Linked DNA regions of Homo sapiens. The protein of the gene in region 2 binds, or shares a complex with, the protein of the main gene of each other region. Links are inferred from orthologs where the notes say so. Each region holds a gene or a part of one and is shown on either strand. Other genes may lie near its edges.

Region 1 (16,300 bases), on a different chromosome or scaffold from region 2:
GGCTCTTCAGGGTTGAGACTGGGAGCATCTGGCCCTCTACTCCTGCTTTCCATTCCAGCCTCTCCAAACTCCTTTCAGATCCCCCAGGCCTCCTGTTGCTTGCCTCTCCTGACTGCACTGTGACAAGTGCCATTTACTCTCCCTAGAGTTCGTTCCCCAGCCTCTTCTGCTCTTCCTGGCCTCCCCATCTCCCATAAACCTTCTCTAACCGGTCCTTCCTCCTCCCCATCACCTCGCCCACAACAGGATGCTTCTCCTTTAACCCATTTGGGTACCTGGTGTCTGTCTCTATCACCACCCTGCATCTATCACCCAGTAAGCAATCTGTTCACATGTCCCCAGCAGTACAAAAAGCATGGGCTCTGGGTGGACAGGCCTTGTTCAAACCTCAGCACCAGCATGTCTTGAAGACATTTGTTTCTGAGCCTCAGTTTCTCAACTGCACAACAGGGCAACAACGGCATGGCATCAACCTAGTTGGGCTGTCGGGAGGGCTCAATGAATCCTGCATGCAGAGAATTTCTGCATGGATGCCAACTGTGGCACCTGACACTGGGATGCTCACTACAGAACAACCGCGTCTTCTCTTATGCCACGCCTTCTCTTCTGCCACCACAACAATGTAAACTCCTCTGGGGTAGAGACCAAGTCTCTCATATCTCAGAGCCTTCTGTGCCTGCTCAGTGCAACGCAACAACACAGCACTGCTGGGTGAACTCAGATGTGGAACACCCTGCACTTGTCTGTCTTTAGCTACAAGGTACTGAAAAGTGCAGTTTAATAATCTGTTAACCTGTAATAAGAGCAGCAATAATGACAGATAGTAAAGTTGAAAAACAAATGCAACCTGACCAGGAAAACCTATATAAAAGCCTAGGGAACATAATGATTTGTTTTGACTGAAATATAAACCATGGCCAAAATCCTAAAGGTATAATGTAAAAACACAGTTCTCTGTGCTTTCAAAAGAAATAGGATTTGCTCCAGATTCCTAACAGACACCACAGTGAGCTCGCCGGACACCTTCCCAACAGGTTCCAGGAATCCCTGCAGTGGCCGCAGATCCAGACTGTCCACAGTCAGCCTGCTAATACCCACAAAGGCATTTTTATTGTCACAGGCCATTTGCAACAGACTGAAAGGCCTCCCCTTCTGCTGCCAGCCATGGCTGGTTTGAAAGCATTCACATTTCCTCTTCTTTTAACATGTCTTCATGGACTCCGGGGTCAGCTGACACCAGAGGCACTGGGCTACCCAATGACAGGCAATTTCCCCAGAAAGCCTTGTTAGCCATTAGTATTTTTATTGCTGATCTGGGTAAATGAACATGACCCTCCCCACCCTCATGGTATTTTGGCTTCAAAAAGCAATGCCTAATTGTATTCACGGCCTGTCTTTAAATACAATTTTAAGGTATTCAATGAACAACGCTATTAGCTAAATTTGAGGGCTTGTAAGACAGATAAAGACTAGGTTTCTATAGAGAATTTAAGAGTAATGAGGTTAAAGTTTATGCAACTTAATGTGATAGAATAATAGCTAATACTTACTGATCCCGTATCAAGTGCCAGCACTTCATCTGCACTGAATCCCTATAACCTTATTACGTAGACTCTATTATGAAGGCATTTGAGGGCAGGAAATGGAAACAGAGAGATGTGAAGTTACTGATGGCCTCTCTCTCCAGCTACCCATCCATACATCAGCTGCCTGTCCATCATCTGTCTCCTGCGCTTCTCTTGCTCTCACTCATTCTCTCTCTGTACCCACCCACCCCAGCCCCACTGGCCATCCTATTCCTCTTTGTCTCCCTTCTCTCAGTCTTCCTTCCCTCCCAGCTTGTTTTTTTTTCCCTTTCCTGTCTCAACCTTTTTGTATTTGTCTCTCAGTCTCTGTCTCTATAGATTTCCCCCTTATGTCTCCCCTTCCTCCCTCCCTCTCTCTCTCTCTATCTCCTTCCCACCTATTTCTCTCTGTCTTCCCTATCACCAGTACTCAACACACGCAATATAACAAAAATATTTATGGTGTAACATGGTAAAGAAAGAAGGATTTGAAAACCAACTTTTTTTTTTGAGCTGGAGTTTTTGCTCGTTGCCCAGGCTGGAGTACAATGGTGAGATCGCGGCTCACTGCAACCTCTGCCTCCCAGGTTCAAGTAATTCTCCTGCCTTAGCCTCCTGAGTAGCTGGGATTACAGGCACTCCCCACTACGCCTGGCTAATTTTTTATATTTTTAGTAGAGACAGGGTTTCAGCATGTTGGCCAGGCTGGTCTCGAACTCCTGACCTCAGGTGACCACCTGCCTCGGCCTCCCAAAGTGCTGGGATTACAGGCGTCAGCCACCGCGCCCGGCCTGAAAACCAATTTCTAGAGCAAGCTTGTTCAACCCATGGCCCACGGGCTGCATATGGCCCAGGACGGCTTTGAATGTGGCCTAACAAATTTGCAAACTTTCTTAAAAACATTATAAGATTTTTGGCCCGGTGCAGTGGCTCACGCCTGTAATCCCAGGGCTTTGGGAGGCCGAGGTGGGCGGATCACGAGGTCAGGAGATGGAGACCATCCTGGCTAACATGGTGAAACCCCCGGGCGCCTGTAGTACCCTCTACTAGGGAGGCTGAGGCAGGAGAATGGCGTGAACCCAGGAGGCGGAGCTTGCAGTGAGCTGAGATCGTGCAACTGCACTCCAGTCTGGGCGACAGAGTGAGACTCTTGTCTCAAAAAAAAAAAGAAATGAGATTTTTGTGGGATTTGTTTTGTTGGTTTAGCTCATCAGCTATCGTTAGTATGTTTTACGTGTGGCCCAAGACAATTTTTCTCCCAATGTGGCCCAGGGAAGCCAAGATTGGACACCCCTGTTCCAGAGTAACGATTCTACCCATCTGAGGACAAAGTTACACTATCAAAACTAAGTAATTATAATTAGCAAGCTATTCTTCCTAATGGCTTTGAAACTGTAACTTTATTATGTAAGAAAACAAGACTGACTATAAGCTGATAATTGTTAAAGCCACATCATAAGTACATGGGAGTTCATTATGCTGTCTACTTTTGAGACAGTTTTAGGCTGGGTGCAGTGGCTCATGCCTGTAATCCCAGCACTTTGGGAGGCTGAGGTGGGAGGATTGCTTGAGCCCAGGAGTTTGAGACCAGCCTGGGCGACATAGTGAGACCCATCTCTATTTTTTTTAATTAAAAAAGAGATAGTTTTAAAAATTGACACTAAAAAAGAACAAACAAACCTATGAATTTATTTTATAAATTGTTCTTCTGTGTGTTTAATTAAGATCCACCATTATGGAGGAAAAGTTAAAGTCTTCCAATATCCCATTTGATCTTTAGTTCTTATGTATTTAAGAAAGCTACCCATTGATTTATTTTCTGCTTTTATTTCAGATCAATGATTATACTGGCACAATTACAATGACTTGATTTTACAAGGTGGTAAGTGGCACCAGATTTTCAGTTTTCACGTTTGAGGCTGTGGAAATATTGTCTCTGGACAGGAGAAATAAAATGCCAACCATGAGCCAATGGGAATTTCTCTTCCACAATGAAAATATTCACTACGGGAATAACAGAGGGTGCGAGGAAGAGAAGACATTTTTCAGCCAAAAATCAAGGACAGGAAGTATTAATTATACGCATCAAAACACACTTAGAAACAAACTGCTTTATTAGCAAGAAAAACTATGGGTGGGATTGGCTGAATTCTGTCATCACTTCAACCATTACAGAAACTGGTAAAGCCACCATTTTAGGCTGCTAAATATTTGCTTAAAGTAACAACAGCTTACTTTTCTGCTAGGCTCTTGTTCTGTGCCAGGCTCCCTGCTAAACAATTTACATGAAGTCTCTCAACAACTCAGTGAGGTAGGGATTACTACAGGCCTTATTTTAGAAATGGGAACACCAAGGTACAGTGAGCCTCGGTGAATGCGCAAGACCAGCCAAGAGCACAGGTGGCATTTGGGTCCAGACTGGCTGGCTCGGGAGCTGCCTGCCTGTGCAGAAGAATGAGACCCTAGGAACGCTGTGTGAGCCATAAACCTGCCTGGACTAAAGAGCATCTCAGAGGAATCTCGTATCAACATAACACAAACATACATTTAACTCTTACCAGTTTCAGAGCTTTCCCTCAATCATCTTATAGACCCTCAAAACAATCCTCTAAGGTGGCTGAACAGAGATTGGTCTCTCTGTCTTAGAGGTAAAAACACGGAAGCTCAGAGAGGTCAGAGGAAAACTGGGATCTCCTGCCTCCAAATTGAAAAGTACTGCCACCTAAACTGGGGCCCTTCCTCTTTTCTAGAAACCTCAGGGCACTGGTGTGAAAATTAAGTGAGGCTGCACATGATGTGCTCAGTGCCAGGGCCTGTGACATTGTAAATGGTCAACAATGTTAATAGCACCCAAAATGAAATGGACAGACTGGCCTTTTATTAGGTAACAGAAAGAGTCTCACTTTCTTTGTTACTGAACAAGGGAAGTATCTGATGACCTCAGGAGAGAGCAGAAAGCAAGCATAAGCTTCTCCAAAGCTCAAGTTCTAAAAGCGTATCTGTATGGCTGGCACCACATGAAGCATCCGCTGGAAAGTTAGCTGCTGAAAAGAAGCATTTAAAAGTGGGCCCTTAAAATAAATTTCGAAAGTTCAGGCTGAGTGCAGTGGCTCATGCCTGTAGGGATGCACTTTGGGGAGGCCAAGGTGGGAGGATCACTTGAGGCCAGTAGTTCAACACTGGCTTGGCCCGGGCAAACTAGTAAAAATAGTGAGACCCTGTCTCTACAAAAAAAAAAAAAAAATTTTAATTAGTCAGGTAGCATATGCCTGCAGCCCCAGCTACTTGGGAGGCTGAGGTGGGAGGGTTGCTTGAGACCAGGAGCTCAAGGCTGCAGTGAGCTGTGATTGTGCCACTGCAGTCCAGCCTGGGTGACAGAGCAAGACCCTATCTCCAAAAGCAACAATAACAACAACAACAAAAAGTTCAAGAAGAGTTCAGTTCACAGACATTAGTTTTTGATTCTACAGTACACAACTGTCACATACATGTACAATATTCAGGCACAATGTATGTAAATACAAACACATGAACAAATGAAAATAAAATGAAAAGAAAACCCTGAATTCAAAAGGCTAGTGTTCATGTTTTCTTTGACGTCTCCAGGGGAAAGAAATAATCAGAAAATTCAGTGTTCAAAGTAGACCGAATATTGCAAAGCTAAATGCGGTCCTGGTGAATAGATACTGCTATAAACATGCATATTCACAAAAAGCTGGAGAGCAAAATTCACATGTTATAATAAATGCTTATATGTGCACACAGTATTTCTAGAAGGACACACATAAAACTCCAGGGTGATTGCCTCTAGGTGGGGAAAATGAATAGGAGAGGGAATTACTTTTCACTAAATACCCTTTTAGGATTTCTTACATACAAGTATTTTTATATACATTTAAAAAAAATTAATCCTACTGTTAAAGCTAATCATTTTGCCAGGATCAGGTTTCTAGAAAAGAAAAAGAGACTACCCTTACATTTCAGGGATTAATTGGAGGAGTTTCTGGAGATACCATTTTGAAAATCACAGTGAATTCCAAAAGAGACATCAGTAGAGCATCCAGTGGCTAAAAGTGGGCTCTCCCAAGCCAGATAGCATGAGTTCAAATTCCAGTACCCCCACTCACTGGCTCTGTGACCCTAGACAAGTTACCTAACCTTTTGGTGACTCAGTTTCCTCATCTATAAAATGGAAATAATCATAGTGCTATCATGAAATATAACTATATCAGATCACATAGAGTAATAAAACAGTATTTGGCACATAGTAAGCATTTAATAATTGCTAGCCATCTTTATGTTTACCAGTGTTGCTTTGACAGCTAGGCTGAGTAGCAGGTAGCATGCACCATCAAACCACATTTATGGTGGAAGCTTCTTTGATAGAACAATGAAAAACTTGATCTCATTCAATTCTCTCCCTGACAGGGAATGCCTGGGACCCTGAGTGGGCGTCAATAAACACTGACTGACTGATCGACACTGATTGACTGATTTAGGCTGTCAGTGAAAGTGGAAAGCCTGGATTACTCATCCAGATGTTAGGAACTATTTTTCCCAAAAGACAAATAGCACTTCCAGTCTTTAAAAGACTATCGCTGAGGCTTGTTAAAGTCTACCAACTACAAAATGATAATTCCATTTACTTTCTCTAATTAACTATAACAACGAAAAGAAGAAAACTCAGTAAGAAAGAATTCCTAGAGTGACACCTTCCTAGAAGAAGGTTTAACCCAAGGCAGTCTGCTGTACTAGAACTTTTTTTTTTTTTTGAGACTTTAGAGTCAACATTATAATTCATTTCAAGACATGTTGGAATGAGTTTTAGATTTTTTTCCCAAAACAATAATTAAACCAGCCAGGTCCATACTAAATCTCCGGTTTACTCCCAGGAAAACAAAACAATGACTTGGCAAAGCTGTGACCTAAACTTTGCTCCAGCTCTGCACTTACAAAAGTCCATTCATCCCCGCCTTAGGCACCCATCTGCAAAGTGGAGATGATGATGCCTAACACTAACTCGATACAGATGTAAATGAGAATGTGCTCAGAATTTTGAGCAACTTGGAAAAAATAAGCGATGTATTAATTGAAGATGATTTGGAATGCTCAGACATCAACTTTTAGGGACAAATAAACAATCTCCACCCTCCAAATGCTAGGCTCTGTGAGCCCACTCCACCTAGATGAGCCTTCTCTGGGCCATTCAGCCCCCTGGAATCCCAGAGACAGAAGAGGAGTGAGGTACACAAACTGTGGCAAGAAGGGCAAACAGGTTTCACCCACATCACTAGTGCGATCTGCATATGTGACTCCAAGCAGGCCTTCAGGGTAGAGTCAGAGGTTAAGGAAAGAAAAATAGGTTAGAAAATAAATGAGGCCTGTTTATTTCTCCTGCTTTTTTAAAAAGAAAAACATGGCATTCTAGCAGAAATCCTACTTGATCTAAAGTGAGCTTCACATTTCTTTCTACTCTTTTTTTTTTTTTTTTTTTTTTGAGACCGAGTCTTGCTGTGTCGCCCAGGCTGGAGTGCAGTGGCGCGATCTTGGCTCACTGCAACCTCCCCCTGCCGGGTTCAAGCAATTCTCCTGCCTCAGCCTCCCGAGTAGCTGGGATTACAGGCGTGTACCACCACGCCCGGCTAATTTTTTGTATTTTTAGTAGAAATAGGGTTTCACCATGTTGGCCAGGCTGGTCTCGAAATCCTGACCTCAAATAATCCACCCGTCTCGGCCTCCCAAAGTGTTGGGATTACAGGCTTGAGCCACCGCGCCCGGCCACATTTTTACTCTTATATTCTTAGTTGAAAACAACAGAGAAGTCCAAGTGCCACTCCATCTCTGAAGCACAGATAGCCTTTCTGCTGAAGGCAATGGTCTGGGAGCACCAGTCTCAAATCAGATCAATTTCATACCCACCTAGAAGCTACGAAAGTGAAGACCCATAACCCTTAATTTACTTTTTTTCCATTTATAAAACTAAAGACTACAACAGGAAAGAAAAATAAAATAAAACAGATGTAATTAGAGAAGGAGAGTAGGTAGAAAGAACGCAAAAGTGAAGCCCTCCTGGCCCTGAGCTTCACTTAAGGAAACGAACATGACACCCCAGTACTCTGGGGGACTCCTTGGAAACGCCTTCTTAAATGGGCTCCCCTCCCCTGAAAAGAGAGCGAATTCCTAAGACCTCTTCGTGGTCTGTAGATAAGATGGGGGTGGGGGAGATGGAAAGATCACTTGAAATTCTGTATCCATAAATGGTAGAGTGGTGCTCCTTGTGTACATGATGCTTAATGGAAATCGCATGTTTTCACAAACACGGGTCGATCTTTTTAACACACAGTCCCAATTAACGGTGGAAATTCCACAACGTGGGATCCCAGGGATGTTAAGGCCTGGCGAGTTGGCTTTCTCAAACTTTTTCGGGGGAGCCCGCACTGTGGGGCCCCGGACGCCGCCGTCACCATCCGGCGTGGCTCTACCGGGGCTGGTGCCGGGGCTGGGGGCCACGCTCCGCCGGCGGCGCCTAGGGGCCATCGCGAGAAAGAGAAAGAGACAGAGAGAGAGAAAAAGAGAGAGACAAGAGAAGAGAAAAGAGACAGACACAGAGAGAAAGAAAGAGAGACAGAATATAAGAGAACTGAAGAGAAGAGAAGAGAAGAGGGAAGAAAGAAAAAAAAGACAAGACCCGGGGAGGGCGCAGGCGGGAGCGCGCGGGCGGCGAGGCCTAGGAAGGGCCCAGCAGCAGCGGGAGGGCGCGCGGCTACTCAGCCCAACCCGTGCGGCCCGGGCTTACCTTCCAGATAACAGCTGGAGGACGAGGACAGCCCCTTCTTGGATTTGCAGCCCACCAGCTTCAGGCAGATCTCCAACATTTTCCCGCGCCAGCACGTCGGGGGCCGGAACCCCTCTCCCAGCTCGGTCCGCGGGCCCGGCTCAGGCCCGGCTCGGCCCGCGCGCCCCCCCGGCGCCCCCGGCCCCGCCAGCCGCCCTCACCGCCGCCCCGCGCGCCCGCGCCCGCCCATGGCCGCGGCCGCGTCTCCGCCTGGCCGGGACGCGCCTGTTAACAAAGGGCCCGGAGAGGGCGCCCGCCAGGCCCGCCCCCGCCCCGCCGCCGCCTGCGCCTTAACCCCCTCCTGGCCGCGCCCGTCCGCACCCAGGGGCCCCTGGCGTTCCCGAGGCCGAGCCCGGCCCAAAGCCACCGCCGCTTTCCAAAGCCAACCCGGGCCAATGGCGATCCTCGCAGGGGGAAGGCCGCGCGCGGCCCGCGGAGGTCTTTCTCCGCCTGGAAGCGCCGTCCCAGCCCCGGCGGGGAGGGTGCAGGCCTGCTCCACTCCACTTTAGAAGCCGCGCGCAACTCCACCGCGGCCTGGGGCGTCTCCAACCTGCACCGCTTTTGGCGAGTTTCCCAGTACGCGGTGCCAGGCAAACCCTCTGACCCGAGAACGCTGGTGAAAATGCATATTCCTCTGCAGTTACCAATACTAACTGGTCTCATTTCTACTCAACGCGCGTCCTGTGATTAAGGCTGAGGCAGTGGGTGTCTGGGGAGGAAGTCAGAGCTGGCACCCACAGGACAACCACACGTGCGCACGACACCCCGGTGAGGCCGCACATCCAGACCAGGATATGAGGTCAGGCTGCGAACAGACGGGTGTGAGTTCAGAGTGAGAGGACTTAGTCCCTACAATGAGAATTTTCGGAGGCACGGTCTGGGCCTCTTCTCTGATTCATTTTCTTTAACAGAGAACTTTTCCTCTTCCTTTGGCCGAGTGCCACGGGGTGAGGGTGGGGGGACCATTGTTTAAAATCCATTTCATTCAATTATTTTAAACTCTTGTTTGGACTGACCACAGACAATGTTATAAAGCAGCAACAATCACAGTCGTGTTACTGGCGCACACCCAGAAATCTAGGTCAGAGGGAAACAATAAGGAACTCAATGGCACCAAATAATTCAATAAAATCAGGTAAGTTCCCCTCATGACAGGAAAAGGAATTTATTTCATTTATTTCTTTCATAAATGGTGTTAATCACAAAACTGTAAAGGGGGAAGTTTAGTCCACATCTTCTAGCCATGAAGAGTAAGAGCTGACGTGTATTGTGCTCTTCCTATGTGCCATGTTACCTTCATTAACTGTATTGCATCTGCGTAATGATTCTGTGAGGAAACAGATTATCCCAATTCTTCAGGTTTAAAAACAAACAAACCCCACAGATGCTCAGAGAAGTCAGACACCTTGCCCACAGCTGGAAACAGGCGGAGATGGACTCAACCCAGGTCTGCCTGGCTCCAAGGATCAGGCTCCCGACCAGTGGATGATGCTGACCCTTCACATCAAGAATAAATTCCAAGTGGATTAAAGCATTGGATATCTTTGGTCAAATAACTAGCATTGTCATTATATGTTTCAGAGAAAGCCTTGGTTATGAGACCCTGGCTACTTTCTAGCCTATCCTGTAATGACAAAAACCCGGGTATCTTCAGTACCTCAGGAATGGCTAAGTAACAAGATCTTCACTTGGCTCTGCCAAAAACAGCACATAAAAACTCCAGTTGGACAGGATGTAACCAGTGTATATCACAGGGGTTCTCGGCCAGGATGTCATTAACTTTCCACATGTGTCCTGCCAAATTCTGATCAACATACAACATGTATTTTTACTGCCATTGAATGGACCTACTGCTAGAGTCGTGGTACCAGATCAGGCCTCATGAGCATCCAAGAGGGCACCATCAGGGAAGTTTGCAGCTCCCATCATCTGGAGATGCAGGACTACAGGGCCCCCAGGGGATGGGTGCAGTGACTCTGGATGCTTTCTAGGATCTGGGAAGCGCTGTCATTCTGCTGGACAGCCTGCGTGTGGTGACTGCTAACATGTTTAGTGTTGTCTTGAATCTGTCAACCTCTACACGTAATGCCAAAAATAACACTCAAAAGGGTGCCACCAGTACCAACTAGTGAAAAAATACAGTATCTGTCTGTTTTGTTGCCCTTTTGGAAAGTTCAGGGGCCTTGGATCAGACTATAATAAAGTCTGTCATTATATAGCATTTCATATTAAAGGGCCATATTCAAATTGGCGGCTTAATGCCAAGAATTACACATTATTAGGCATTTTGGAAATTCTAGCCATATCCTTGAATACCGTCTGTTAATATAGGCCCAGATATTTGCTTGCCTTGTGCTGTTCTTTATATTGGTATATGTTTATTTTTTTAAGCTAATTATTATTACTAATATTCTGCTCTTGAGTCTAAAATGATCTTATCCTCTTAAATCCTCTTAAAATGAATAATGCTTATAAACTGTACCCAAATCTTTTTAATTTTAGTTATAAAACCATACATCAACAGATCTAACAAAATACTGAATTAGTGGCAATGGATACTGAAAAAACTGCCAAACTACACTTCTGTATCAAACCTGGCCTATACTTTCCATATCCAGCTTTTGACGCTTTTGAAAGATACGAAGAGCATTCTGTTACAAGCAAATAAAGGAGAGCTTCAATCTTCTTACCAGAAGAACACCCCAAGAAGGATTCCTTCTAATCAGCCTAAGACCCAAAAGCTATTAGCTAAAAAGAAAGGGAAAAGGAAAGAAATTAAAGACTGTGAACTAACTTGTTTGCTATGTTGCATTAGTTTGGGAAGAAATACATTTTTAATGTGCATGTAATATGTGCCAGGCACTCTTAAGCCTCACAGTAACCTAATGATTTTGTATAGTTTAATTCCATTTCACAAGTAAGAAAACTGACTGGAGGGAGAGGGGGAAGTATTCTGTCCAAGTTCACACAGCCAGGAGGTAGGAAGGTAGGAAAGTCTTGAACTTTGTAAAATGGCAGAAAATTTCCAATTTAAGTGAAAGGTGGATAATATGAGTAAGATCAGAAGATGAAATAAGTAACATTAACTGTTGGGAAAACATGTCTTAGGAGAAAATAATTCAGGGAACTAGAGCTATTTAAGATTTTTTTTTTTTTTGAGATGGTGAAACCCCATCTCTACTAAAAGTACAAAAAAATTAGCTGGGCGTGGTAGCGGGCATCTGTAATCCCAGCTACTCGGGAGGCTGAGGCAGAGAATTGCTTGAACCTGGGAGGTGGAGGATGCAGTGAGCAGTGATCGCACCACCACACTCCAGCCTGGGCAACAGAGCGAGACTCCATCTCAAAAAAAAAAAAAATATTTAGAAGGAAAGGATAAACTCCCCAACATTAAAGCATGGGATCTGAACAATGTTTCTAAAAGCATAATCCATGGACAATCTATTTTGAATAATGTGGGGCTTGCTTAAAATGCGGAGTCTTGGTTTCTAGTCTAGAATCAGAATATGTGTAATGGGCTGGATCTGAAGCTCCCAGATGATCTGTATGCATATGTAAGATGGAAATCCACTGTTTGGGGGCCAGACACAGTAGCTCACGCCTGTAATCCCAGCACTTTGGGAGGCTAAGGTGGGCGATCACCTGAGGTCAGGAGTTAAAGACCAGCCTGGCCAACATGGGGAAATCCTGTCTCTACTAAAAATACAAAAATTAGCCAGGCATGGTGGTACACACCTGTAATCCCAGCTACTCGAGAGGCTGAGGCAGGAGAATCGCTTGAACCTGGGAGGTGGAGGTTGCAGTGTGCCAAGATTGCACCACTGCACTCCAGCCTGGGCAGCAGAGCAAGACTACATTTCAAAAAAAGAAAAAAAGAAAAGAAATCCACTGTTTTGGAAGAGGGAAGAGTTGCTTATTTTCACTGGGAATAGGACGAACAGGAATGGATATTTCTAAAATTTAATTCATTTGAAAGCAATTTCTGAATTTAAGATAGGCATAGTTCTAGAACAAGTTACCAAAAGAGGACTCTTCTTGGATGATTAGAGGAGAGAGACTGAATTTTTTTTTTAATTTGGAATTTAGTCCTATTAAGAAAAAGTTGGGCAGGCACCCACCATAGAAGTGTGTCAAGGGAAGGAGGCAGGATTCAGGATGTGGATGCTCCATCTCTCAGCAGCAAGACTGGGTGTGAGTGCAGGTGGAACAGAGACAGATGAACCTGACAGGAGGCCTGGCTTGGGACCCCAGGACAAGGTGACCCCAGGTCTGGCTGACCCCTTCACTGTTTCCAGCATAGCTAGTAGCTTTAGGGGGGGAACAGCAAAGATCTTGAGGTATGTGCACAGTATTTCACATGCAAATGCCAACAAAGCCCACTTTCTCTGATTCAGCAAACATTGTCCAGCAAGAGCCTGCCAGGTACTCTAGCTCTGTGGGTCCAGTGTATGTCCAACTAAAGGATAACATAGCTTAAAACATCACTTCTGTCATACCAGTTTTTGCCACTGTATAGGGACACATGCATCCCTTTAAGTCTCACATTTTTTCAATCGGGTAGCACTACCTGCTGGTCACGAGTTATGTGTCACAAAGGCTAGCGCTGAGTCTCAGATCTGCCACTCACTGTGGGGCCATGGGCAACGACTTCACCTCTCAGAGCCTCAATTTTCTCATCTGAAAAATGGGAGGTAGTCATAAGAGTAGTTATCTCACAGGGTTATTATGAAGATTAGGAATCATGTAGGGAGAGTGCCCAAAGCACAGAAGGTGCTCGATAAACAGTAGCTATTGTTATTTCCAAAAGAGGACTATTTCTGTATCAGGTCTGTGTTCCTGCCTACATCTCACTGGGACTCAGTCAAGAGCTCAAATTAACAAACATGCTATATGAAAATGATTCCAGAAAGCAGTCTGGAGGTTTTCCAAGGGACCAGGAAATCAATTTATTTTATGAAGAGAAAGAAACACTAGCTGTGAGGTAGGAGTAGCAACTAAGGTTCAAATGTAACAGAGAGCCCCACCTTTCATCCTAAAGCAAAGATTTGCAACCACAGCTTCAGCAAAACACAAACCCCACACCCCCGCATCTTGAATGGGGGCCTAATTCAGACCCATGATTTCATGCACAGGCTGCACAGATGACTGTCCTTCAAATGACACTGATTTTTCTGTTGGTATTTCCAGGCTATAATTCTCAGCTGGGGACCAAATCTGAACTGCCTTAGAGTAAATCCGCTTTCTAGAAAATCTCATTACAGTAAGACTACTATATTTTTATAATTAACAAGTCTAAACCTAACTGTTAAACATTTTTCTCTAGAAGGAGAAAATTAATGGTATTAGTATGCTCATTTTTTTAAATTAATTTTTCTTTTTAATCAAAGTAATATACATAACATGGTTAAAACTCAAGCAGTACTAAAAGTCTTGTAAAAAAGGCTAAAAATAGTCTTGTAAAAATCTGGTAATAAAAAACAGCAATCCCTTTCCCCTGTATGTTTCCGCAGAGACAGCCTCCTTCAGATTTTTAGCTAGTAACATCATCTTGCTCTTTCTGAATTCATTAGATTTATCCATTATCTATTAACTTATGACAGCAGTATTATACTATCACCATCCATAACCCCCCAAAACAATAAAATCACAATTTGGGGGATAAATCAATAGTTAGTGTTTACATTATTAGGATGATATAAATATTCTTCACTGCTTAGCCAATAATATACTATGAATGTTTCCTTTATTATACATCTTTGTTTATCCTAGAGATATTGCCTTGTTTTCATTTAGTCTTCTATATACCTATCACCATTTTCCCTCAAATACTTCAAAGATCTGTCAAACATCTAGTGATATTTTTTCCAATCACTAAAACATTTCAAATATTCTCAGTTGTACTTTTTTTTTTTTTTTTTTTTTGAGACGTAGTCTCGCTCTGTCACCCAGGCGGGAGTGCAGTGGCGCGATCTCCGCCCACTGCAAGCTCCGCCTCCCGGGTTCACCACGCCATTCTCCTGCCTCAGCCTCCCGAGTAGCTCGGACTACAGGGGACCGCCACCACGCCCTGCTAATTTTTTTGTATTTTTAGTAGAGACGGGGTTTCACTGTGTTACACCAGGATGGTCTCAATCTCCTGACCTCGTGATCTGCCCGCCTCGGCCTCCCAAAGTGCTGCGATTACAGGTGTGAGCCACCGTGCCCGGGCTCAGTTCTACTTATTGACTGACTTCTTCATTTTGCTGGAATTCATCATCCAGTAGCTTCACAGAGGTGGGGAGGGAGGGTGCATGTCTAAAAAAATACCTTTCTTCTATCTTGACAGTTTGTCTGGGTATAGAATTCTAGGTTGAAAATAATTTTCCCAAATGAACTTTGAAGGCATTTATTTATCTGCTACTATCTAGTTTCCAGTAAGTATTGTTTAGAGATGCAATCCCATTCTGGTTCCTGACCCCTTAAAATGACTTGCTTTTTTTCTCTTTGGAAACTTTTAGGATCTTCTAATATTCTTGGTGTTCTGAACTTTCACAATGATATGGCCTTTCATATATTATTCTGGGCACTCATAAATCCAGAGATTTATATAATTCTGTTTTGGAAAATACTCACTTCACTAAACTCTGAAATTTTTCCTTACATTTAACGTCTCCTAACTTCTCCTCCATTTGTTTCTTCGTTATTATCATTATTTTTTTGTTTTCTTTCTGGAATTCCTACAAAAAGGATATTAAAGCCCTGGGATTGAGTTTCTAATTTTCTTTTCTTTTTTTTTGAGACGCAGTTTCACTCTTGTTGCTTGCCCAGGCAGGAGTGCAATGGCACAGTCTCGGCTCACTACAACTTCTGCCTCCTGGGTTCAAGCGATTATCCTGTCTCAGCCTCCCGAGAGTTTCTAATTTTCTTACCTGTTCTCTCTTATTGTTCTCTCAACAGTCCATGTCTTTGTCTTTATGTTCTATTAGGTTGGTGTAAAAGTAATCAACGTTTTTGTCATTAAAATGGCAAAAGCCCCAATTACTTTTGTACCAACCCAATACATTCTGAGACAATTTTCCACATCTTCTGTTGGATTTTAAATTTGGGCTATAATGTTTTTAATATTAAACAATTCATTCTTGCTGGGTGTGGTGGCTCATGCCTATAATCCCAGCCCTTTGGGGGGAGGCTGAGGCAGGAGGATCACTTGAGCCCAGGAGTTCAAGACCAGCCTGGGCAACATAGTGAGACCCCATCTCTCTACAAAAAATTTAAAAATTAGCCAGGTGTGGTGGTGCGTGCCTGTAGTCCCAGTTGCTTGGGGGGCTGAGGCAGGTTGGGGCTGCAGTGAGCTGTGATCTTGCCACTGCACTCCAGCCTGGGTGACAGAGACCATGTATCAAAAATAAATAAATAAATAAATAAAAGAAAAATAATTCATTTTTATTCTTATTCTGATTGTTATTGTTTTTAAAAGCATCCTGTTTTCTGACATTTGCAATCTCTCTCTCCAAGGATAGCAAAGAATAGTTCTTTTTTTTTTAAGCAGTATTTGTGGGAAATGCATAGCTTTATTTATTTATTTATTTATTTATTTATTTATTTATTATTTTTGAGACAGAGTCTCACTCTGTCACCCAGGCTGGAATGCGGTGGTGCAATCTTGGCTCACTGCAAGCTATGCCTCCCAGGTTCAAGCAATTCTCCTGCCTCAGCCTCCCAATAGCTGGGATTACAGGTGCCTGCCACCATGTTCAGTTAATTTTTGTATTTTTAGTGGAGATGGGGTTTCACTATGTTGGCCAAGCTGGTCTCAAACTCCTGACCGCAGGTGAACTGTCCACCTCAGCCTCCCAAAGTGTTGGGATTACAGGCGTGAGTCATGGTGCCCAAGCTGAATAGTTCTTTTAAACTCTTCCTC
Region 2 (9,638 bases):
AGCCTGGTCATTCTTCTGATGTGGATGCCCTCACCACCTGGACCCCCTCCCAGCTGAGATCACGTCTTGGTATCCCCAGGTGAGGGCTGGGCCCCGTCTGTGCTCACCCCATGCTGGAATCAGGGTCCAGCTCCTTGAAGCTCTCAGCCATCGTGGTGGACAGAGCCATGAGGGGAAGCTTCTTCTGCAGGGAGGGTGGGGCCGGCGATGAGTGTCCGTGCCTCCCTCCACCCTGCCTGAGCACCAGGCCAGCCCCTTGGGGCAGGGGAGGAGGGAACCCAGGAGGGCCACAGTCCCAGATGAGAGTGGAAACAAGATGACAAGGCGTGGTGGGGGTGACATTTCCCTGAGAGCATGGATGGAGCCCCTCTCCATCTGGCGTGCCCTTTCCTCTTCCCAGAAGCCACTTGACTGGGCAGGAAGGAATGACCAAGTCCTACTGCAGACTGGGAAACTAAGATGCAGGGAGGGCAGGGAGCTTGCCCCAGGTCACACAGGTGGAGGGAGAATGGGAGCGGGAGCTCTTTCCCCTGTCCCAGGGTATATATGGCTGACCTAGCCACCGCTGAGTTCAAACGCTCTATGGCTCCCAATTTCCTTGCCTTGGCCACACTGAATTGTCAACTGATTCCAAAACATGGCCCCACACTCCCACCCCATCTGGAGTTACGGGGAATGCCTGCTCTGGGATCAGAGACCAGGGTTCAAACCTCAGTTCTGCCACTTACTAGCTATGTGACCTTGGACAAGTGACTTTATCTCTGAGCCTCCAGTTCCTCATGTGTAAAGCAATGCCTGCCCCTAGGGTTGTGCCAGTGTTCCATGAGACAGTGCACTCATATGTTAGTAACAAGCTGGCGGTTATCAGCCAATAAACGCTGCCTCTTGATTAATAAACGTGTATCCCTCAAAAGCCAGCTCAATTGCTACCTCCTTCAGGAAACCCTCTGAGGCCGCCCCATTGACAGCCTGCTCTTGCGCACTGATTGGACAGAGAAGTTCAGGTGCTGTCAGAAGCCTGGCCTTGGCTTATGGGAACTGGTGCACAGGGAAGTGGGGTAAAGGTGATGGGGAAGGTATAGGGCCTCTTGAGTGCAGTGCCAGAGGGGCCTTGGAACAGAGCAGTCTCCATGCCCTTGGTGCCAGACACTCAGACTGGCAAGGAAACCCCAGCCCCGACCTTGCTTCCCCATTGGATGGAAGTCTCCTGCTCAGGCCCCTCCTTCCCGGGACCCCCCACTCACCACCCGCTTGTCCATGTCTGCCCCGCTCTGGCCCTGCAGACAGGCCTGCAGCCGCTTGTGGATGTTGTGGGCTGCCCGCTTGGCCGGCTCCAGCCGCTGTTCTACCTGGGAAGGAGGTATGGAGGTTAAGGATCAAGAGAGGCTGTCTCCCCCTGAGCAGGAAACTTTCTCCTGTCCCCTGGGGACCCCATGGCCAACAGCTTGAGGAATGACTCAACCCAGGCCCCTACCTGGCGTCCCCGCCCCGGCCCTCTGCTCCGAGACAGCCTGCACAGGCCTGCCTTCCCACCTGCCCGGCCCAGGCACGTACCTGCAGCAGGTCCTCACCCAGGAACTCAGCGGTCTCCGGGGTGCTGCGGGGAGTGGTGGGGGGGGGGGGGAGAGTGCTTCTGCTGAGCCTGCCTGGGTTAGAACGCCCCCTACTTCCCTTCCCCGCAGCAGGGCACCTGGACCCCAGTGCTTCCACTGTCCCTCCCAGCTGAGGCCTGCCCTGGGTGGCCCAGTTGCTTCATCCCAGTCGGAGCACATTCCATGGGGGTGGGAATAGGATACATGGGTTTTTCCTCCTCCACCCAGGGCTGTGTCCTGAGAGAGGGCGGACAGATGAAACTAAAGGGGAGGCTGAGAGACCCACCCGGGGCCCAGCTTTGGGACACAGAAGCCTCTTTTCTGCCCACTCCCAAATCCTCAGCCCACCCCGGGATGAGGAGTATTAGCTGGCCCCAAGAACGGGAAGTGCAGGAGCTCAGACTCCTAGGCACAGTCACACAGCACTCTGGACTACAGCTGTGGGCAGGGGTGCACAGGCCCTTGGCCCCCACCTGGGGACACATGGGGGATGCCAAGGCCCACTGCAAGGTGGTCTGACTGTCCAGGCTATGTAGGCATCTGTGCCAGTGTGAGACTAGAACCAGGTCTCTGGACACCCAGTCCCCTCCCTGGACCCAGAGAATGGGGAACTCCTGAGGCTGGGGGAAGAGGAGCAGAGAAGACAGGCTCTGAGAGGCTCCCCAAACTTCCGGCCTCCGTGCCACCGGCTCAGAGGCTGGGGGTGGGAGCTGGGAGACCTGGGGATATTTCCACCTGAGTCCAGGAAAAGCAGAAACGAGACAGAAGCAGGAGGCCCCTGGGCTGGGGGGAGGGGGAGGGGGAGGGACGCTGCAGGCCAGGGGCAGGCCCCTCCTCCCACCAGGCCAGGACCCATCTCCTCCCCTCGCCCCAGGTCTGTGGCCCTAATCGACCCTCCTCCCTCCCCGGCCCAGCAAGCAGAGGTGGTGAACTGTCCCATTGTCCAGAGGGGACAAGTGAGGTCAGGAGGACCATCCACTTAGAGACTCGTGGAGGCAGAGAAGTCCCAGCGTCCTAGGGCAGAGAGCATTCTCCCGCCTGAAGCCCCCTCCAATCCGGTAAGGGGGGGCATCCCTTCCCCCAAAGGCCACCCTTGCTCCTCCAGCTCTGCCCGAGAGACGGGGGCGGCGTTCAGAGAGGAGGAAGAGAGAGCAGGAGTCTGGCCGCTCAGAGGGTGGCTGCCCAGCTGTCCCCAGCCTCCCCCACCCCCGTCTCCCCCGACCCTTTTACGACCCCTCAAGTCCTGCCGGGGTAAGAGTGGGGCTGGAAGCGGGTGACACTCACCGTCCCAAGCTGCCCGTCTGGGCCAGCTGCCGCATGCGGTGCAGCTGCCTCTTCATCATCTTGGGGGCGAGCTGGGGGCTGCGGGGTCACGGCGGGGGTCGCGGGCCCGGGGAGCCCCCGGTCCAGCCTGCCTCTCCTGCGGCGCGGCTCTTGCCCCGGATGGGTGGGCGGCGCTCTCGCTTCCTGGGCCGCCGCGCGGCTCTTGCTGGCGGCCGGCTCTCTCCTCCCCCGCTCACGACTCCGCCCCCGGCCCCCAGGTCACTCCTCTCTCCAAGTTGGTTTCCTCGCTCTTCCCCGGCTTCCGGGCCCCCGGGCGACCCCCGGCCGGGCCCCCGCTGCTGTGTGTCCGCCGGCCGCGGCCGTCCACAGGTTGTGCCCGGCTCCTCCTCCCCGCAGCGCCCCGCCCAGCCCCGGTGGCGGGAAGCAGGTAAGCCCATTCCTGCCCCTGCGCCCGCAACCCGCCCCAGGCGGGGTGCCTGCCCCACCCGCAGCCTGCAGACCCGAAGTATAAATAACCTTTGCATCCCTCGCAAAGAGGAAAGGGTACCAAGCGAAAGAGGGGTAGGCCTTTCTGACCTGTCCTGGCCTCTCTGGGCCTGCCGCGGATACTGCCTTGCACTCTCTTCCGCAGAGGACCTCTGGCCCCCTGGAACTAAACCCCCCACCACTGGATGACTGGCTGGGAGCTTTGGCTTCCTGGGGCCACGGGCTGCTGTGTGGCCGTGGACAAGCCCCTGGAACTCCGGACTCGCTGTTTCTAATGGTCTGATGGGCCAGCTGTCCTGGGCCTGCCCATTCTGCAGAGTGGACAAGACACCCCTGCCAGCTCCCTTTAAGGGAGGTGCGTGCCACCCCTCAGCCACCAGGAACCCTCCCAGAGCGGTTCGCGACACCCTGTTCTCCACATCTCCTGGCAGTTTGCTCCATCTGTGAAGCCCGTCTCCTCTCATTCCTCCTGGCAAACAGCCTCAGTCCCCCTTCCTTCTTGTAGGGCAATGATGTAGGTGCTGCTCTGACTGCCCCCAAACTCAGTAGTTCTCCTCTTTGGCCCTCCACTCAACACAGAGTTAGGCATACAGTAAGTGCTCCATAACTGCTGGTTTTACAAGATGTGAGCGCCTTTAGGAAACAGTAGGCTCTCCTTACCCTGCACCCCTGTGGCATCAGGAGCCGCAGGCGTGGGGAAGAGGGGAGGGTGTGCCCCAGAGTCCTGCCACACCCTCTGCACTTTGCTTTGTTAGTTTCAGTTTAGTTTGAGACTATTTGAGCCACTACTGTGTGCCGGTGCAGACTGTGTGCCGGTGCAGACTGGGCGCCTCTCAGAGGCAGGACCTTGGCCCCACACATCTCCATACTCCCAGCACCTAGCCCAGGGCCTGGCACACTCACTGGCTGCTTCTCTCCTCCCTAATGAGGCAGGACTCATTGGGGGTGGGAGGAGCTGAGAAGGGAACCCAACAGCTGCCTGCTATGGCCAGAGCCTCCCAGATGGGAGCCCACCTGAGTGTGGAATCCTGGTGGGAAGTTGGGAGGCTCCAAGATCAAAGCTCAGGCCAGGATGAGATGTCAGGCAAGGTTCCCTCCCCCATCTCCCTTTTCCCAACAGGAAGGCTGCTGGCCAGTGACTATGGGTGGCATGGCAAGGGAACCTCAGGTGCCATCCTTCCTGTCCCTCGGGAAGTCTCTGGACTATGTGGTGCCCCTGCTCTGTTCCAGCCAAGCCTCCAGCCCAGACCACACCGGGCCTGGGCTTGTCTGGTTCTGTAGCTGGTCTGAAAGTCCTTGAAGGCAAGGTTTGGCTTACACCTCTGTCTCTCCTAGATTTGCCCAGTCCTGAGCCCCAGCTCCGGCCTGGTGAGGGGTCAGTACACGTGGGTTGTAGCCGCAGCTGTGGTGGAAACTACCTGAGCCATATTATCAGTCTAACTGAGCTCTTGCCCCGCGCTCCTGCCCTGGTCTCCAGACTCCCCTCCAGCCAGACCTAAGGGTCCTGGGCAGGAGAGACACCCTGGGCCTTTGAGTCGGATTCGGGTGGGGCTGCTGTGCCTCCTAGCTGGGTGATGGGTAGATTTTAGGCCCTCCCTTGTCACACCTGGATGTTGAATCATAGAAGGATGGACTCCCCAAAGGTTGGGTTAGGGTTATAGGCTGTTCCTTAGAAGGAATTGTAATCAGAGACTTACGGACTCAGAAGTTTTGATCAGTGGGTGTTGGGATCATGGCCTTTCTAAACTGCAGACACAGAAGGGGTACCTCAGAGCTCCCCAGCCAACCCCTCGTGGGGCCCTTCCCCAATCCAGGGGCCTGTTGGCTTGGGTCATTCTCTACCAGGCTGGTCTTAGCTGGCTCCTGCTAAAGCCTCTGGGACCCGGCAGTGTGCCTGTCACAGTGGCTCAGGCAGCAGGAACAGAGAGAGCTTAAGGGTGTGGAGGAGGCTAGCTGGCCAGGCTGTGGCTGTCATTAGCTGGGTAACCTTAAGTGGGACACTTCACGTCTCTGAACCTCAGCATCCTCCTCAGTAAATTGGAAATAATAGTACCTACCTCACAGAAGCGTTAGGTGAATTAATAGATGCAAGATGCTTATAAAGTGCCTTGCGTTGTTTCTTGTTACCATCATTATTCAGCTTGCCAAGTCAGGAATGGAAAGACCCCTTACCCCCATTCCTGCCCCAACGACCCCTGTGTGTGTCTAGCTGCCTTAGGACAATGGGACTTTTTGTTGTGCTATAGCATATCCTCCAGTGAGGGTGGTATCACTGTCCCCATTTTACAGGTGAATAGCCCAAGGCCCCTGGCCTAAGGTCCCCAGCTGGAAAAGTGGTAGAGGCCAAGTTAGGAAACAGATCTGACAGTCTCCTAAGCCCACGTGGGCTCTCCTGCTGTGCCAGACCCAGACAGCCTTGCCTGGGAGCTCCAGAAATGCTGGCCCTTGGCTCTGCCTTAACCCCTGTGGTTGCTTTGAGGGCCTGGCAGCCTCTGTGCAGATTTGTCTGTGAAAGCCTGGGACAGTCTGGGTAGCATGTGCTAGTAAGGCTTGAGCAGGATGTGGGCAGGGAGGTCAGCAGCTGAGTGGTGGTGGTAACGGGGGTCGGAAGCAGGGGCTGCAGGAGCAGAAACATCCCATTTTAGACACTTTGACAAATTGCCTGTTTGTAGTATCCCTCGGTGCTGCCCTCTGTGTGGACTTCCACCCAGAGCAGCTAGGGGCATAGTGAGATCTCTGGGGCTCTAAAAACTCCCTCACCTCCCTCCCCAAGCCCAAAGGACTTTCCAGGAAATCCTGGGGTGGCCCTAAGGCTGAGAACTCCATTTTAATCCTGATAGCCCTGGAGGAGTGTGTACCCTGAGCCCAGCCCCAGAGGACAGCCCGACAGAGGCTGGGGGGAGGACTTGGGAGGTATGGGGCAATGTGCCATCCTGGTAGACACCTCAAGACTGCTGGCCCAGACTCAGCCCATAATGTGTGACTTCTCTGAGCCTCACTTCCCATTTCACAGGGCATTTCAGAGGCTTAAGATGGGAGGCTATAGGCATCAGGTCCGGGGGCTCCTCTTGCCTGCCTTGCTGGGCTGGTGCCCTGGTTGCAAGGCCCAGAGAGACTGGGGGAGGGGGTATGTCGAGAGACCAGGCAGACCAGGCACAGTAGCTCACCACAACACTTTGGGAGGCTGAGGCAGGTGGATCGCTTGAGCTCAGGAGTTCCAGACCAGCCTGGGCAACCTGGCGAAACTCTATACAAAAAATAAAAATATTAGCCGGGCATGGTGGCACGCGCCTGTGGTCCCAGCTGCTCAGGAGGCTAAGAGGGTAGGATTGCCTGCGCCGAGGAGGTCAGGGCTGCAGGGAGCTGTGTTTACAACACTGCCCTCCAGCCTGGGTGAGAGACCTTACCTCAAACAAACAAACAAAAAAACCAAAAAACTGACTGGGGGCCGGGTGTGGTGGCTCACGCCTGTAATCTCAGCACTTTGGGAGGCCAAGGCAGGTGGATCACCTTAGGTGGGAGTTAGCCTGACCAACATGGAGAAACCCCGTCTCTACTAAAAATACAAACTTAGCAGGATGTGGTGGCGCAGGCCTGTAATCCCAGCTACTCGGGAGGCCGAGGCAGGAGAATCGCTTGAACTCGGGAGGCAGAGGTTGCGGTGAGCCGAGATCGTGCCATTGCACTCCAGCCTGGGCAACAAGAGCGAAACTCCGTAAAAACAACAACAACAAAAAACCGACTAGGCAGGAGCAGGCTCCCAGGCCCTTGCCACTTCTCCTGGCTGCCATAAACAGACGAACAGTGTGATGCGGTTGCTGAAAACCAAAATTAACTGGTGCCTCGGCCAAATCAACAGAAATGGAAGTGGGGCTTCGAGATCTGGGAAGTCCCACTGGTCTTGGCATGGCACTGGGGGTCACCCTTCAAGAGACAGAGCACACGCCTCCCCAGTGCACTGCATCCCAGCCCCTGAGACTGCAGAGCGCAGTGGCCCGGACCTCTGTGCAGCAACACGGTATTTGGGGAAGGACTCCTCCAGGGAGTGGAGGCCCAGGGTCCTTTCCTCTGGTTAGAACCCACCCCAGACTCTCAGACAGATGCAGGGCTTCTGTGGTACCTTATGTCTTTGCTCTCAGGGTGCCACACTGGCTCCCAAGTCCTTGCCAGCTTGTGAACTCTTAGGACAGGGGCTGGCCCAGGGGCTGCTCAGGAAACACTGGCATGACTGACAGGATGGGTGGGTTAAGGACAAGGCAAGGGACAAGGTCCAAAGGCTGAAGGGACCCCACCTTCCCGTCCCCGGAATATCCTGGGTCACTCCAAAGCTGACAGCCTGGCTCCTTTGTCCAAGGACTCCTCAGAGGGACCTTATAGCTCATTGAGTCCCTCTCCCCTTTTCCAGAAAGGAAAGCATCTTCCTCAAAATCACACAGCAAGCCAGTGACCCAGCCAGAACCAGCCCCCAGACTCCCAGCTCACAGTCCCACCTGTTCCCCATGCCAACCTGTACTCCTCCCTGCCATGGCCAGTAATGAAGACTGTGCTGGAGGTGGGACTCTGGCACCCCAAGTGGATGCTGCAGGGGTTATGGTTTCATTTCAGGTAGAAGAAACTTCCAACCGGAGTTATCTTCAGGAGACATCACAAGTGTGGAGGCGAGTCCTGCAGGGTAGGGAAGGGGAACAGGAACGAGGCCACGTGGCTGGGACAGGGTGTCTGGAAGCCTCCAGGGGCCAGCCTCTGTCTGGAGGGCTGTGCCAGGGTGGGAGTCCCACTGTAGGGATCTGATAGGAGGCTCCCGCAGGGTGCAGCTAATGCCTCTTGTCCCCTCAGCAGTAAGGCGGACATGGAGGAGCTCTCAGCCTGCGCTTTCAGTGTGGGCCCAGCAGAGAGGGGCCCCTTGCTTGCTGATGAGTGTTAAAGAGCACACACGCTGGGATGCGGGTGTGCTGGGCAATTCTCCAGCATGTCACAACTATATCTAAGGAGAAGGGTTCAGCGGCCAAGTTCAGATTGGGAAACACTAGATTAGACAAAGTGAAAATGGCTTCTTAAATGAGGGACTTCCCAGGGTCTGTATGGGCTCATCTACTCAGGAGAAACCGTGCGCAGCCTCCCTGGACTCATCTGAGCAGGGAACACTTTCCTGCAGAGCCACACGCAGGGCTGGCCTCCCACACAACAGGGCCCATCTGCCTGGACCAGCGCCCCCTCGCTCCCAGCTGTGTGGCCTCGAAGCCACGCCCAAGCTTGGACCCCAGCCTCCTGGTTGGAGAAAACTGATAGCACTGTGTGGGGGAGAGCTGCCGCTGCGAGTGGCAGGGGCCCAGCTCAGGGTCCCTGGGTCTGCTCCCAAACAAACTGCGATTGGTGCTGGGCAAGGGAGTGATGTCTGGGGGGAGGGAGAAGCTGGGCTTGGACTTCCCTCTGGGGTGCTGCAGCATCGAGGTTGTGTGGAGGGCTGAGCACAGCAGGAGGAAGTCGTGAGCAGCCAGGGGCCTCCCCCTCGGTGTCTGTAGCAGCTGGGGCTCCTGCCAGGCCCTGGCGGTCGCCCACTTCCAGCTGGGACGGTCCTGGTCCGCCACAGCCCAGCGCCCTCTCTGGTGACTCAGCACTGGCCACAGGCCCCTTTGCAGGGCCTTTTCCGGTGCAGGGCCCGGGGGGTGGTGGGGAGGGGGCCCACGGCCTGACCTCCAAAGACGGAAGTGGAGAGGTCTACAGGGCAGCCCTAGGGAACATGGACTCAACCCCTCCCATCTCCCTCAACCTCCAAAGGGCCACGAGAGCAGCTGGTCCAGGAAAAACGACGTTTTATTTTCATAAATACTCCTGCTCTCACTCACACACTGACCCCACTTCTGACCACGGACAGATGGATGGACAGACGTAAGACACCCATAGGAGGCCCCAGCAGAGGCCAATGAATGAAGGAGACACACCGAGAACTCTAGGTGCCCCACAGCCCCTCGCTGGGGCCATGGGCCTCTGGCATTACCCTTGAGCCCCCACAGTCCCTCAGGGGGCCCAATGGCAAAGGGAAACCCCCAGGAGTACGGGCCAGGTGAGGTTCCCCCAGCCTGGCCCCCTGAGGCTGTGACCACAGGGCCAATCCGGAAGAAAAGCAGAGTCAAACCACACACCAGAGTGCAAATAGCTGGGGGTGTAGGCGTCACCCCCCAGTCACTGGGTTCCTATGGAGGAGGCCTAAGCTGGTCCCCAGCTCCAGCATGGCCCCCGAGTTATGGCTGGGCCTTCCCATAAGGCATAAGAGAC

Evidence for each region.
Region 1: the proteins of SH3BP1 (region 2) and ABL1 are in contact, whole or in part, in a crystal structure (PDB 1ABO), measured with the Mus musculus proteins. The link is inferred for Homo sapiens from one-to-one orthologs. Residues at the interface, in NP_001303613.1 of Mus musculus: Ala607, Pro608, Thr609, Met610, Pro611, Pro612, Pro613, Leu614, Pro615, Pro616; in NP_033724.2 of Mus musculus: Tyr70, Phe72, Ser75, Gly76, Asp77, Thr79, Asn94, Glu98, Trp99, Trp110, Pro112, Asn114, Tyr115.

What each region holds. Positions count from the first base shown.
Region 1 is NC_000009.12:130,827,587-130,843,886, reverse strand, and holds the start of ABL1 (tyrosine-protein kinase ABL1), read right to left. Parts: upstream 8,634-16,300; 5' UTR 8,441-8,633; coding exon 8,362-8,440; intron 1-8,361. UniProt on the Homo sapiens protein: Non-receptor tyrosine-protein kinase that plays a role in many key processes linked to cell growth and survival such as cytoskeleton remodeling in response to extracellular stimuli, cell motility and adhesion, receptor endocytosis, autophagy, DNA damage response and apoptosis.
Region 2 is NC_000022.11:37,633,085-37,642,722, reverse strand, and holds the start of SH3BP1 (SH3 domain-binding protein 1), read right to left. Parts: upstream 3,055-9,638; 5' UTR 2,936-3,054; coding exon 2,877-2,935; intron 1,598-2,876; coding exon 1,555-1,597; intron 1,350-1,554; coding exon 1,245-1,349; intron 892-1,244; exon of another isoform or gene 185-891; coding exon 108-184; exon of another isoform or gene 1-107. UniProt on the Homo sapiens protein: GTPase activating protein (GAP) which specifically converts GTP-bound Rho-type GTPases including RAC1 and CDC42 in their inactive GDP-bound form.